Linked DNA regions of Homo sapiens: region 2 is linked to region 1. Evidence: fine-mapped expression QTL. Tissue or cell type: whole blood. Region 1 holds a variant in brackets; the other region holds the start of a gene. All regions are shown on one strand. Distances are between the middles of the regions.

Region 1 (7,868 bases):
ATGAAAAATCTTTCTTTTCAGAGTTTTTTGGATTTGGGAATTATATATGAAGAGTTGTGGACCTGTAATAATATTCTTTTTCAAAGAATTACTACTAGAGCCCAGAGAGATTAAGTTGCCCAAGGTCACTCAGCTTGAAAATGGGAGAGCCTGGTTTCAAACTCAGGCTCTCATTTGTCTCCAAAATCCATCTTCTTTCCCCTACCTTCTCCTTCCCATTTGTTGAGCCTGCTCTATGAGGTATACAGTAATAGCTTCTCTCTCCAACCTGTAGCTCAGGTTCCCTCTACCCTTTCCCAATCTTATGCCCAACCCCTGCATTTTCCTGGGTCCTTCTTGATCCTCCTTTTAGGAGCCACTGTGGCTCTGCAATCCTTCTTTTGCGGTGGCCTGGGTGTATAAATTTGACTCTCAGGGGCCATGAAACAGTGCTTCCCTAGTGACCCAGGATGATTCCTTTCTGCTTTCAGAACTCAATTCCAATGCCCCAAATTACAGTAGGCAAAAGCACTCGGGCTGTCCAAAGATCTGAGCGGATAGCCAAGGGACTAACTTAGTCCACATCAGCCATCTAGCCTAGCTGCTCTTGTGAGTTCTTTTTGAAAGTTATTTCCCAGGAAGAAGCTCTGCCATTTACTCCAGAAACAGGTTCATTCCTTGAAAACTTCGAAAGAACTGGGTACTCAAGCAAGGAAGAAATTTTTAAATTTGAGGATGAGCAGGGATAAGTGTTCATTATTCTGTTAACTAAACATGAACATTTTTGGTGTACTAGGGTCAAAGTCAACTAAGTTAGTTGACTGGTGATCATTGAGCACCATGACTACGTACTGTTCTCCTTGCCTTTTAAAAATTGATCTTTCTGCCTTGGCCCAGACTTCCCTGTGTTCTCTTTATCTAAATCCAGCAAGTATGTTTTCTTGAAAAATGCATGCCATTTGGAAAGGAATTGGTAAGAAAAGACTATGTTGAAGCTATGTTTGGCAAGGGGTGAAGGTGTGCAATGAAATCAGGACTTTTCAAAGTATAGAATTCCACATTCTCTTTAGATATTACCCTTAAAGGCTTGGAAAAGACAACTGCCATGGTTAAACCTGCCTGTCAGCCTCACTCTTCTTTTTTTTTTTTTTTTTTTTTTTTTGAGATGGAGTCTCGTTCTGTCGCCCAGTCTGGAGTGCAGTGGCGCTATCTCGGCTCACTGCAAGCTCTGCCTCCCAGGTTCACGCCATTCTCCTGCCTCAGCCTCCCGAGTAGCTGGGACTACAGGTGCCCACCACCGCGTCCAGCTAATTTTTTGTATTTTTAGTAGAGATGGGGTTTCACCGTGTTAGCCAGGATGGTCTCAATCTCCTGACCTTGTTATCCACCTGCCTCGGCCTCCCAAAGTGCTGGGATTTGGGATTACAGGCGTGAGCCACCGCGTGCAGCCCAGCCTCACTCTTGAGATCCTATGGGCCCAGAAGTCTTTATTCTGTGACAAGCCTGCAGTTACAGCTTCTGGGCAGCAGAACTTTGGAAAAAGCAGAACGTTCCCCACCAGCTGAATTCCCTGGTACAAGCAGGTTCTGCTGTTCCTGCTGATTGTGCTGGGTCTTCAGATAGATCCGTGTGTCTGGGTTGGCTCCTGCTGGTGCTGGGCCACCATGTGATGTCCTCATTGCCTACTTCTGCATGGCCTCTCCATGCTGCAAGTTAGTTAGGGGAGCATCTTATGAGGAATCAGACTCAGCCATGCACAAAAACAGATGCATAGTTTTCAGGTGACAGAGAGGAGGTGAATCAAAGAACCTAATTCTTGCAAGTTCCTTGGTAAGAAATAGGAACTAATCAAAACCAGGCTTGGGAGCAGGATGTCCTCTGTGACTGCTGGGGTTCAGGGCAGAATATGACTGTGTCTTTTACCAGCCATAGTTACTTGCTGTGTACTTCCCTAAGGAGACTGGCATTTCAGATCTATTTGATCTTTGTGTGCTACATACTTATGGGGTGGAAGGCTAGGAGGTGAGGTGGGGCAGGGAGAGAGTGTATGGGGCAGACAATTAGAGCACCAAAGAATATATGTGTAGTTCTTGTAACGAGATTTTCTTTCTCATGGCCTTGAAGGTAAACTTAAAAGGGTTCCCAAAATGTGTGTGTATCTAACTCACAAGTATTACCAGTCTCTCTTTTATTTCCCATTACTCAAGTATAAATCTATGTGCGAGGTGGCTCATGCCTGTAATCCCAGCACTTTGGGAGGCTGAGGTCAGCAGATCACTTGAGGTCAGGAGTTCGAGACCAGCCTGGTCAACACAGTGAAACCCCATGTCTACCAAAAATATAAAAATGAGCCAGGCGTGGTGTCACATGCCTGTAATCCCAGCTACTCGGGAGGCTGAGGCAGGAGAATCGCCTGAACCTGGGAGGCGGAGGTTGTAGTGAGCTACAATCCCTACTGCACTCCAACCTGGGCAACAAAGCAAGACTCTGTCTCAAAAAAAAAAAAAAAAAAATTATGTGTGATGGTCAGGGAGAATATATGCTAAAATATGACAGTCACTTCTCTGGATTCATATCTCAAGCTTCATTCCTGACTACCACTTGCTAGCTTTGTGACCAACTTACTTCACCTCTGTAAACCTCAGTAAAATAGGAATAAAGTTATACCAACCTCATAAAAATGTTGAGACAGGGCCTGGTACATAAAAAGCTCCCAGTAAGAGTTATTATTGTTGTTGTCATTACAACATTACAACATTACAGTTGCTCTTTTGTTTTAAGAAAAAGCTTAGAGGCTGATCGCTTGAGACCAGAAGTTCAAGACCAACCTGGGCAATATAGTGAGACCCTGTTTCTACGGGGGGAAAAAATAGCTGAATTTAGTGGTGTGTACCTTTAGTCCTAGCTACTCAGGAGGCGAGGTGGGAGGATTGCTTGAGCTTGAGTTCAACGCTGCTGTGAGCTATGGTCATGCCGCTGAACTCCAGTCTGAGTGACAAAGCAAGACCCTGTCTCTAAAAAGAAAGAAAAGGCCAGAAAGCCTTAGTAGAATTATTTGTGAGTTGCTCTTTTGCAGCAGTTGTGAGCCTGAAATAAATAACCGAACACACATGATAAAATTGCTTTCTATTCCTAGCTGGGATTTTTTTCAGTTACTTCCTTAGAATTAACATTTCTCTTAGAAACTTGAGGTCAGGAATAATGAGTTTTCAGTAGTCCACTATGATTCGAAAAACTAAAGAGTAAAAAGTCCATCATTAAATGTACTGAGTGAATAAAATTACATGTATTACCATAAAAATGTTTTCCTTCTGGGGGGAGGTAATCTTCACACAGCCAAGCCCACCATGCTAGTAGAAATGTATTTGAAGAGAGGATCTTGGTGGAGAATTACTATTCACCATAATTTTCATTCTTACTGTTTTAATTAACTTTTTTCCTTTTTGGCCTTAAACTCTGCTTGCCCTGTAAGAGCAGAGTTCTTTCTTTCCTTCTAGAGTTTTCATCATCTTCCAGTTGTGTTCATAGGTATAAACCCAATATCAGCAACTCATCCAACAACTTGACTTACCTTTAAGCAATAATATTTGACAGTTTCTCAGACTTGTTTGCCAAGCAGTGGTATTTCTCATTTCTGAGCTAAGTTTATAATCTGAAGATTCATATCATCACATTCTCCCACCCCTGGGGCCTTCAAAGGAGGAGATGAAAGAAGAAGGGACCAGCTCTTGGTGTGCGGGTCACAGCTGGAACCGCACAAGTCCGTGCACTCTGGGGCTGACAAGCAGGATGTTCCCTTGTACTGAGAGGAAAC[G/A]AAATTGAAAATGCAAGTCTGAGCTCATTTCTTTCTGGTGACTTGTGGGTCGCTTCAGATGTTTGCAACCTTATCCCAATGCTGTGTGAAGAAAGGAGGTCATTGAAGGAGGCCCTGGCTTAGGCATGTCCTCTGGTGAGTGATTTTGTTCGGTTCAGTTTGGTTTTTAAATACGAGTGGGTGAAGGCTTTTTCTTTTATTTTGAGAAATGTGGAAACAAAGGCTCTTTGATTTAAGACCTCAGACTTCATGCATAGAGAGAGTAATAATCACCCAAATCATAATATCTGACCAAAATTTTCAGGACTTTTGGAATCCCCATTCCTGGCTTTTTAAAAGTTAGACCTGAAATCCAGAAGGAAGATTTGGACAGTCAGGGATGACAATAGCTGTATTCTGAGTGCATGCAGCCTTTTCTCGGGTTCTTTGGGTGGGAGGAATTGCAGATTCTTTTCTCTGCCTCCTGTCAGCACGGCTCGCCACAGATGCCCAAGGGAAATCCATCCGGCCTGGAAAATCCAGAAGCACAGCCAAGGCATGGCTTGCTTTCTCTGGACCACAGAGTGGTATAACTATTTATGATAAATAAACAGGAAACACCAATTTATGCTTTCCCACTCATGATGGGACTAAACTAGCTAGTTTGGAGTGAAACTCTTTGGGCTTCCTTGCTGCTTAGTCTACCTTGCAATGCTACAGTCTTGTGAGCACCACCATTGCAGAGATGAACAGTTTTTTTCCTTCTGAGCTCCTCTGGGTATGCACCGCCTGGGATGATGGAAGGGCTTGTGGATCTGCCTAGTCCATAAAAGTTAAAGCAAGCAGGTTTACCTGCTTTTCTCAGCGTGGGCTAATAATATTTACAAGAAAACTTTTCTGGTTTGTTTTATATTTTAAAATTAATTTGTGCTGATTGTAGAAAAAAATGTAAAAAGAATCAAAAGTGATTCATAATCCTACTCCCCCAGGAATAACCACCTTTCTAGATTTTCTCCATGCCCATAGGTTCATGGAAGCCAATATTGGGTTGATACTTGCATTCGTTTCTATTGCTGCTATGACAAATTACCACAAATATAGTAGCTTAAAAAATATGCATTTAGCCAGGCACAGTGGCTCATGCCTGTAATGCCAGCACTTTGGGAAGCTGAGGCTAGAGAATCTCTTGAGCCCAGGAGTTCAAGCCCTGGGCAACATAGTGAGACCTTGTCTCTAATAATAATAATTTTTAAAAATACACATGCATTATCTTACAGCTTTAGAAGGCAGAAGTCTGAAATTCATCTGCTATGGATGACTATCTGACCAAAATAATTTTCAGAACTTTTGGAATCCCCATTCTTGGCTTTTTAAAAGTTAGACCTGAAATCCAAAAGGAGGATTGAGACCAGCCTGGTCTCAATTGAGACCCCTGTCCCGCAAATTCGTATACTGAAGTCTTAACCCTCAGTGTGGTGGTGTTTGGAGGTGGGCCCTTTGGGATATAATTAGGTTTACATGAAGTCACAGAGTGGAGCCCTCATGACAGGATCAATGCCCTTGTAAGAAGAGATATCAGACAGCTTCTCTCCCCACCATGTGTGGACACAGCAAGAGGGCAGCTGTCTGCAATCCAGGGAGAGAGCCTTCAGCAGAAACCGACCATTCTGGCACCTCGATCTTGGACTTCCAGACTCTAAAGTTGTGAGAAAATAAGTGCGTGTTGTTCAAACCATCCAGTCTATGGTATTTTATGGCAGCTCAAACAAACCTAAGACTGGGCTAAAATCAAGGTGTCAGTGGGTAGTGTTCCTTCTAGTGGCTCTGGGGAAGAGTTCACTTTCTTCCCTCTTTCGTTCTGTATGCTGCCTACATTCCTTGGCTCATGGCCCCTTCCTCCATCTTCAAGGCCAGCAGTGCAGCATCTTCAGATCTCTCTCTCTCTCTCGCTGACCCTCCTAGTTCCCTCCTACAATTACATCAGACCCAACTGGATATTTCAGGATAGCTTTCCCATCTCAAGTACCTAAACTTAATCACAACTGCAAAGTTCTTTTTACCTCTAAAGCAACGTATTACAGGTTTTGGGGATTAGGACTTGGACATTGTTGGTGAGGCCATTGTTCTGCCCACCACAGGAGGCAACATATAGTGTTCATCTTATGCTGATTGAGTGTCTGCCATGTGCTATGCACTTTTGCTTTCTTTCACACAGTTAAGAAGTGGTGAACTAGGATTTGAACCCAGGCAGTCTGGCTCTCCCGCCTGCACTCTTGAACTCCTGCAATATATCTACTTCTGCAGTCTGCTTTTTCTCTTAATATAGTTTGAATATTTTCTCATGACCTTAACCATTCCTCTAAGTTTGAGAGTCTAAAACATCATTTATAATGGCTAACTAATACTTCATTGCCTAAATGAGCCATAGCTAACTTAACCATTCTTCAATAGGAAGATATCTTGGTGTAGTTAAAAAAAACACAGTGCTGAACGTTCTTGTACATGAGCTGTGTGCCCATACTTACTTATTAAATGAACTTGGGCCAGAAAAGTTCCCTGGAAGCTGGTTAACTACTGTACATTAGACAACAGTATTTCCTAAACTGTTTTTCTTCTTTTTTCCCCTTCTGTATTCATTTACTTACTTTAAAATTTTTTTCCCCTTCTGTATTCATTTACTTACTTTTAAAATGAGGTCTCACTATGTTAACCAGGCTGGTCTCAAACTCCTGAGCTCAAGTGATCCTCTGACCTCAGCCTCCTGAAGTGCTGGGATTACAGGCATGAGCCTCTGCACCTGGCTTTTTTTCTTGAGGCACTTAATAGATTCTATGAAGTGAGGTTTTCTGGTTAACTAAACTTAAGAAATGCTGCACTCCCATTCCTGAATTAGAGCTTCACAATCATATTAGCACTAAAACCAGAAGTCCTCTGGTAAACAAATCCCTCTCTCCCTCCTTGTTTTCTTTAACCCAGAGTTTCCCAAGCTTAATTTGACCAAAGATTTTTTTCTTTGAGGCATCAAGTAACTATCCTACAAAGCTAAGGTCACAGGACACAATGTTAGAAACACATCTTTGGAGTCAACCAAGTGAAGCCACTTACCCTCAAACTCCTTCAAAGGCTTAAGTCTAAAATTACTCCAGATGGAATAGTTTGAATATGATCACGTTTATGAAATAAACTTAAACGTTTCCTATCCTCCACTCGGAATTTCAGTCTAACATTGTTGTAGTGGTTCCTTACGTTCCTTATAGAGGTCACATTATACCTGTTCCCTGCTCTGTAAATGTCAGGGCTGGCCATCAGCCAAGACCAATACGGACCTGCCCTGAGGTCTACATGGCACTGTGTGTTCATGTTGTTGTTTAAGGATAGTGACCGATGTCCTTCAAGAGAGCCGTTCTGGCCGGGCACAGTGGCTCATGCCTGTAATCCCAGCACTTTGGGTGGCTGAGACAGACTGATCACTTGAGGTCAGGAGTTCGAGACCAGCCTGGCCAACATGGTAAAACCCTGTCTCTAGTAAAAATACAAAAATTAGCCAGGCATAGTGGTGGGTGCCTGTAATCCCAGCTACTCAGGAGGCTGAGGCAGGAGAATCGCTTGAACCTGGGAGGCAGAGGTTGCAATGAACCCAGATCACTGCACTCCAGCCTGGGCAACAGAGCAAGACTCCATTTCAAAAAAATGAAAGAAAAAAAAGTGTTCTATAGAGTGTTCAGTGCAGGTGAGGAACTGGATGGCAGGATGTTCTCATTGAAAATGGGGCAGATTTCAGGCATCACAAGCTATTGAATCATTACAGGTGAATAAACCAATAGCAGAGCAAAGTTTGAGGGAGTAAGCAAAGCTGGACCTGGGGTTACTGGGGAAGTTCTGGGTGAGATGCACACTGGATCAGTGAAAAAGAAGCACCAAAGATAACCATCATGGTTTGGGGAGTCTAATGGGGCATGTCCTCTTGGCCAAGGGACTTCAAGGGGCCTTATGGGGTCATGAAAAAGAATGTGATTGAGCTCCCAGGCCTGTGGCACAGACTATTTGCATCACATTCATTTAATGATCTTCAAGACCCAAACAGTGGTGCTGTCTG
Region 2 (7,868 bases), 370 kb before region 1:
CCTGAAGGAATTCTCTAACATGCTCAGTCTCCAAAATTCTTGGCAGGCACACATGCCTGACTGAGCCGAGATTGCCTGCCATACCATGGCTTCAGGGGGATCTGGGGAACAAGTGTCTGATACCTCCCAGCTTCTACCACAGGATGTGGCTCTGCCTCTCACTATGGCTTTTAATATGGGAAATCCCCAAAGATGGGAAGGAGTTCACAAATTGGCCAGCCAGAGGAAAAAAAAATGTGTATATGAACAAGTCTGTTACACTTCCTACCTGGCCAGAAGCATTTTGAATTTCCTCTCTTCTTTGGCTTTTTGTCTTACCTGCTTTGATAATCCGCAACACTGAATAAACACAAGCTTTTTTTATTGTGGGTCTCAGGGCAGTTAAAAATCACTTAGGAAGTACACACTATTGGTCATGAGTCTTTAGTCTATTCCTAGTAAATTCAATTAGTACAAAGGTTCTAAACCCATCCCTAACTCCCACATCACCCTGTAGAAATTTAATTCTGTACAGGTCTTCAGGAGATTCTGATGCAGATTTCTGATTAGGAACCATGTTTTAGTCTTTCTCATCTTTCACAGTTTCTTTACAAACGATTTCTATTTTTCTGAAGCCCCAACCCTACGCCATCAGTCTTAATCAATGACTCTTTGTTCAATTGGGAAAACCAGTCCATCTGATGCAAATTCACTTAACCTCTCTCCTGAGAGTTGAACTCAAACTTTCTTCTTGTCTTTATCCATTTCTTCCTCCTTCCCTACTTCGTTATTCCTTCTTCCCAAGGCTAACTGGCTAATGTGATGCTCATCTGAATGTCCTCTTGACTAATTAGAGACTTTGACTAATATTCACCTTCCTTTTTGACTGTATCTTTGGCCTAATTTCCCTGTTGTCTAATTTGCTTTGACCCCCAAACATCCAAGTCTTGCCTGACCTAAAAACCCTTTCCACTAGACCCTGCTTCCCATGGGCTATGTTCCTGTTCTCCACCTTCATCTTTCACATCTGAAGAGCTGAAAGAAGCAGTTTGTACTCATGGTTGCTTCTCTGATCTCTCGCTCATCCCCATTTTTGTTTGTTTTATTTTCAACATTCACTTGGTAGCAGTCATTCCTCACCTCTTGTAAGTGCTTCCAAGCTCATCTTCTGGACACAAGTCACTCATGGCTTACTGACAGCCCTCCAATGGTCTCTTCTTCATCTGCATCCCCCATGACCTTTCAGAAGCATATGACCCTGTTGAAAACCTCTTTCCTTCTTTGTGGCTTTTGGTGCAAATCCCTTTGAATTTTTCCTTCTACTTCTCGGATGATACTTTATCAGTCTTCTTTGCTGGGCTCTCTCCTCTTCTTGCTCTGTTTTCTCATCCTGGCTGTTCTCATTTCTTTAGCTGTAACCGCAAAGTAGATGACACTTGGATGTGTGTCCCCAACCCCGATTCTTCTATTCAGAGTTCAGATATTTCCAACTGATCACTTCCAAAGGGTGCCCAGGCCCTTTTCCTTCTCCATCTCCCCATTCCATCACTCCTTTTAAAAATTTATTGCGGTTAAAAATACAAAACTTAAAATTTACCATTTCAACCACTTTTAAGCATATGGTTTGATGACAGTAAGTACATTCACACTGTTGTGCTCAATCATACCTTTTAAATATCTGTATAGCTGGGAGTAGAAGGACCATTTCTGGTTCAATTGTTTATTCCTGGGGCCTGCTTCTATCTCCATATCATTGGCCAAGCCTGGTGCTTAATGGTTAAGAGCATGGGCTCTGGTGAGTGTGATCTGAGTTTAAATCCCAGCTCTATAACTGTAGCTGAGTCTTTCAACCTCTCTGGTCTCATTTTCCTCATCTTAGTATTCTCTACAATCACTCTGCTGAAGCAATAACAGCTTTGTTTATTTGTGAGCAAACCCCTTTAAATAACTTGTCCTGCTGGGGCTTGTGCTGGAAATGAAGAAAAAAGGATGCATTTGAAGAAAAGGATGGGCTTAGCCAGAAAGTAGAAGTTTCTGATATATTGGAGTGGGATGTAGAATCTGGCACTGGCTTGGATTTATTAAACAATCAGCTCCACCTACACTTGTTATGAAAAAGATGGGAAAACAATCCATCAGTAAACGATTTTGGTGAGTGCTTCCATCTTTGGTCAGAGGAGTAATTGTTCATCAGTGACAGGTGAACCTCTGTGAAAATTGAAAGGGCAATTTAGTTGAAATGGAAGCATTTATTCAGGAAACAGGTGATCTGGGAAAATTTGATGTGCATTTTTTTTTTTTTTTTTGAGACAGAGTTTCACTCTTGTTGCCCAGGCTGGAGTGCAATGATGTGATCTCGGCTCACTGCAACCTCTGCCTCCCAGGTTCCAGTGATTCTCCTGCCTCGGCTTCCCAAGTAGCTGGGATTACAGGTGCCTGCCACCACGCCCGGCTAATTTTTTGTATTTTTAGTAGAGAAGGGGTTTCACCATGTTGGCCAGGCTGGTCTCGAACTCCTGACCTTAGGTGATCCACCCGCCTTGGCCTCCCAAAGTGCTGGGATTACAGGTGTGAGCCACCGCATCTGGCCTGATGTGTATATCTTTTAACATGCCTTTAAATCCTATGGCTCTAAAGAGGCCATATTAGTTATTTCAGTGTTTATTTCATTTGATGAAGAAACGTTTGCATATGAATGTTGGGAATTCTAGCAGGTCCTGCCTCAATGTGAAGAGGCATTTTTTTTTGCTTTTGGCATTGATCTCCTTTTGGACTGGGCCTGATCCACTTCTTACATCCAGTCCAGGACCTGTCACAAAAGACTCACATTAGTACCACATGGTATCCTGTTTTAGTAAAGAATAGGTGAAATATTTTAGTGAGTAGATCCTACTTTTCCTTTCAGATGCAATGAACAGAAGACCCTGAAAGGATTTCAATCCAGAATGTCACAGGATAATAAGAGCAGATGTCTGTGATGCCCTTTACAAAGCACCTTTACATACTGTCTCTCATTCGTCTCTAATGACACCTATGTGATCCTCCATTTTTTCAGATGAGGAAACTGAGGTTCAGAGTGATTAAGCGAGTTGCCTGAGATTTCACAGCTAACACATTGTGAAATCTAGTCTAGCACCCAGGACTAAAAACTCTCGGCTTCTTTTAAGGCCACATATCGCCTCACCAGAAGGGTGGCCTCTCTGGAGATATACCCTACCCTCGGCCGACTTGATATTGAGAACTTGGTCATCTTAAGCATGTGGGCCACTTGGGCAAGGCAGCCCTTCCCAAATTGTAAATGTCCCCACGTGGAGCTCAAGCGTCTGGCTTGAGCCAGAAGGTGCCCTGAACACTCGGTGGCCCCAGCCCCCACGTAACAGCACGTGCTCGGGTCCCACATTCGGTCAGACGCCCCTCTCCACTGGCATCTGCCCGGTGGAGGCGCCACTGCGCTCTGCCTCCGCCCCAGCAAGCGCGTGTCCACGCGGGCGCGCCACGCCAGCCGTGCGCCCCAGCGGCTCGCCGTGCGCCCGCGCCCCAGGTGCCCACTGGCTCGCGCGCCCTCCGTCTGCGCCTTGGAGACCCGCGGCGGCGATCGCTCGGAGCCGCCTTGGACCGCGGCCTCGGGTCCATCACACTCCAGGGGCGGAGCGAGGCACCGAGACGTCAGGGCGGAGAACTAGCGCCGGGCTAGCGCGCCCTCCCGGCGGCTGCCGGCGTCCCACGTCCTCGGCTGGCGCGGCCGGCGGCGGCGGCGACCGGGAGATGCAGTGAGCGGCGGCGCTGGGGCGCAGCCAGGCGGCCGGGAGGGCGGGGGCCAGAGGCTGAGCCCGGGCGAGCCCGCCGTGCGCACAGCTCTGCCCGCCGCCCCTGGAGCGGATCCCCAGCCGTCCCTGGGCGTTCTCCCGGGTTCTAGCAAAGCCCCCCGGGGTGCCCATCAGTTTCCTTGGGTGACTACAGCGTGTGTTTTTTCTTTCCTCTTTCCCCTGCCTGTGTGCCCTTCTCCAGGATGGCAGAGGCGGAATTGCACAAGGAAAGGCTGCAAGCCATAGCAGTAAGTCCACTTTCATTTTATTTTCTTGCTCTATTGTCTGGGGTGGAAGGGGGCCCCCGAGGGTTTCGGGGCAAGCGGCATGCCAGCACAGTAGCCGCAGGTCATATGTTCCAGGGGCTAAAACTCTGTCAGGGCTCAGCTAGGCTGCCTTTTCTTTTCTATGTCTATAGATGGAGACCCCCAAGGGCGCGCTTTGGACTGAGGATTTGAATGTGGAAGATTGGCTTAAAAAAAGATGCTTGCTGCTGGGCTTTGGGGAAGGACTAAACAGAGGCTTGGGGTGGGGGGACGACTCCAGGAATATTATGACCGAATGCTCAGGCATACGTTGGCTTCATAGCCTGGAGAACCAAGAGAAGGGTGACCTGAACGGTGGCTGCCATCCTCTCTGCGGAAGCTGTCCTCCTGTTAAGTGGAAAACCAGGAGTCAGCGACTCAGCCAGCCACGCGGTAGAACCTCCTCCCAGAAACCGGGAATGTTAGTTTTCCCTTCTCTGTTTGATATTGACAAGGGCACTGGCACAAGCCACCACCCTGGAGGTCTGGGGACTTCATACAACTGGGTCCTGGTTATAATATTCCATGAGAGCCTCCTTCTTATGGTGTGGAGTATCTGAAAACCTATTTTCAGCCTACAAAGGAGTAGTCAGTTTTGGCAAAGTTCGTAGGCACTTTCAGAAAAGTGTACCCATGTGCATCTTGGGTTTAAAAAAGAACTCTCTGAGACTGCCTAGATTTGAGCAATCTTAACACAGTGTTGCCAATGATCCACAGATGTGGTATTTTTACTGGAGCCACCACAGCTGGATTATATATTTCCTTCGAGGATGAGGGAATGATTACTGCTGCCGTATGAAATAGTAACAATTAAAAAAGAAGGTCCGTTAACATATTGGCATAAAAGAATCTCCAGACATTCTTCCACCTAAATACATTTGTGTTTTTCAGTTCGGAAGTTCTCTGGAAACACATATAAATTTGTTGGAGAAATAGTGTGTAATGTTTTGGAACCAAAGTATATTAAAGCGTTTTCCAAAACCTTTTTGGACAGATTCTTCATTGGGAAAATGCACACAGACCCTTCCTTTTTTAGAAGCATTTGACATGGTCTCCAAGGCTCTGAGACCCTCTTTCTCAAACGCCTCAAATCTGAAATGTCTTGGAGACTTCACCACTGAAGTGAGAGAGATGTTTGCTGGCAATATTGAAATGCCATGGTTTGCCTATTAGGTAATCTTTGAACGTGGTGCTCTGAACTCAGAAAGGTTGTTTTTTTCTTCTTTCTCTTTCCCCCTGTGCATGTGTATTTTGATGGTTTGTGAAGTTATTTGTGGTTTCTAAAGTTGGTGGCAAGGCAGCATGGCCAGTGTGTCATGAACTTGATAAGAATGGTGATATTGAGTTAATGGTGCCATGTAGCTGGTGGGTGTTTTGTGTGAACTGGATAATAGGCTGCTTTAACTGTTGATGCAGTGGCTGTTCCCATTGGCTGCTGCTGAAGGCTTCCAACAGTTGTCACATTTTCTGCCTTTGCACAACCAGCTTTACTGGATGCCTGAGGAACAGCTGAACTCCATGAAAGGACTTGCTTTCCAAACATGGAGCCAGTAGCTGCTAACACTGGGGTACCCTTTTCCAAGTGCGGTTGAGTAATCCCAGCAGAGGCCAAGTCGATTTTCCAAGAAAGATCTAGGCAAATCTTTGGGAATTCTCTTGAGCATATAAGAATACACACAAATACTCACTTGTGCCTCTTCAGTTATTGAAGAATTGAGTTTGTCCTGTGTATCTGGGGAGCTGTTGATTATTCTCATGAATGTGCACCTAATACAGTCTGCCCTCCCTATTCATGGGTTCCATATCCACGCCTTCAGTCAATCTTGGATTGAAACTATTGGAAAAAATAATAGATAGCTGAGTCTGTACTGAACATGTACAGACTTTTTCTTGTCACCATTCCCTAAATAATACAGTATAATCAACTGTTTACGTCGCATTTACAGTGTATTAGGTATTATAAATAATCTGAAAATGATTAATGTATGTGGGAGGATGTGAGTAGGTTATATGCAAATACCATGCTATTTTATAGGGACTTGAGCATCCTTTGATTTTGGTATCCAAGGGGGTCCTGAAACCAATTCTCTGAGGATACTGAGGGATGACTGTATGATGTTGTCAGGACAGATTTGCTAACAGCGTGTGTTTGTTTGTGTGTGTGTGTGTGTGTGTGTGTGTGTGTGTATGTGTGTGTGAGAGAGAGAGCCAATTAAGAGACAGAGGGAGTTGGGTGGGGGGACTTATGGCCACATCGGTAAATGGTTTTATGCTATGCTTTGGTCTAGTGCCTACTCTTCTGAATTCTGCAAACCCTGACTCTCTCATCACTTTCCTGGAGTTCTCAGGGGACCCTGAGGAGATCACAAGCCTGCCCCCAGAACCTAGCACTCCTGAAGTCTCTCTGGAGATGTGAGGGAAGAAGACAATAGGTCCTCACATCTTCACTTACTTGGGCTTCTCTCTCAGAGGCAGAGAATCGACTGGGATTCCAGTCTGCAGGGCCTTGGGCAGTCTTTAGTCTGGGTCTCAGCTCCTTCATCTGTAGAATGGGTTCATGAGTTCTACCTCCTGGGCTGGTTGTAAGGTTTAGTTAGGATGGAGGTGAAGCACCTGGCAGGTAGCTGTCATTGGATGGTGTTGAGCAGAGCCCTTAGCTTTTGTCTGTATTGCTGTCTTGTCCTGTGGGGGGTCAGAAGCAACATCTCTGAAGTGGAATGTGTATTAATGACTTTTTTTTTTTTTTAGACAGAGTCTCACTCTGTCACCCAGGCTGGAGTGCTGCCATGACAGCTCGCTGCATCCTGAAACCATCCTCCCACCTCAGCCTCCCCAGTAGCTGGGATTACAGGCATGTGCCACCATGCCCAGCTAATTTTTAAATTTTTTGTAGAGATGGGGTTTCGCCATGTTGCCCAGGCTGGTCTGGAACTCCTGACCTCATGTGATCCTCCCACCTCTGCCTCCCAAAGCACTGAGTTTAGAGACATGAGCCACTATACTTGGTCTGAACAGCTCTTTTTTAATCCCTTCCTTCAACTGACTGAAAGTCAGGGCCCTGCCCAGCATCACTTTCTCTAACTGCTTTAGACAGAGGCAGAGATATGACTTGAGGATTCATTCATCCATTTGTTCAGTAGGTATTTACAGATTGCCTCCTCTGGGAAGGTATTGGCAACACTGAAAAGTTGGTGTCCCCAGGTTTCAGCTGCCTGAGGCTGAAACCTTTATTTCACCTTTTGCACATAATTTCTTGAAGGACAGATGTCCTGATACCTAAGATGCTTGTCACATGAACATCTGTGGAATATCCGCCCCCACCAACAAAACTGAATTAAATACTTAGAAACTACAGTGCTTTAATGGAATCTTCCATTTGGATCCAGGAACTAATCAATGAGAAAAGATGACTCTTATCCTAATTTCTGCCAAAAGAAGAGCAAGTCCATCTTTGACAATGATCTCTACACTCACATGCTCCTTTCTTCTGTAGGGATACTCCCCAAACTTTACATTTAGAACATGGTAAAAAGCCTCTGAAACAGCATGAGTGAGAATGGTAATCCCAGGGACTAATAACAACAATTGCCATTTATTGAATATTGTTCATTCAGAAAGGCACGGTGTGAAATACTTTTTGTTTTTCACCTAACGTTATTTATAGTCTAATGGAAGAAATAGAAAAGCACATAAGCAGTTACTATCCAGGAGTACTATGAAAATGAGCATCCAGGAGGAACATGTAAACCAATCTCAGAGTTGTGAAACAATTCCCCAA

Evidence for each region. PIP is the estimated chance that this variant, and not a neighbour inherited with it, causes the effect.
Region 2: it holds the start of PALM2AKAP2, and the variant in region 1 is fine-mapped to the expression of PALM2AKAP2 in whole blood (INTERVAL, PIP above 0.99).

What each region holds. Positions count from the first base shown.
Region 1 is chr9:110,144,776-110,152,643 of GRCh38, forward strand. All of the region lies in intron 8 of PALM2AKAP2 (PALM2 and AKAP2 fusion), which reads left to right. It overlaps LOC124902244 (a long non-coding RNA gene), which reads left to right and starts at 4,958. Exons shown (of 2, transcript XR_007061727.1): 1 at 4,958-7,868. RefSeq lists an enhancer at 3,657-3,906. The variant G/A (reference allele first, on the strand shown) is at 3,794.
Region 2 is chr9:109,776,501-109,784,368 of GRCh38, forward strand. It overlaps PALM2AKAP2 (PALM2 and AKAP2 fusion), which reads left to right and starts at 3,698. Exons shown (of 11, transcript NM_007203.5): 1 at 3,698-4,033. The coding sequence starts at 3,989.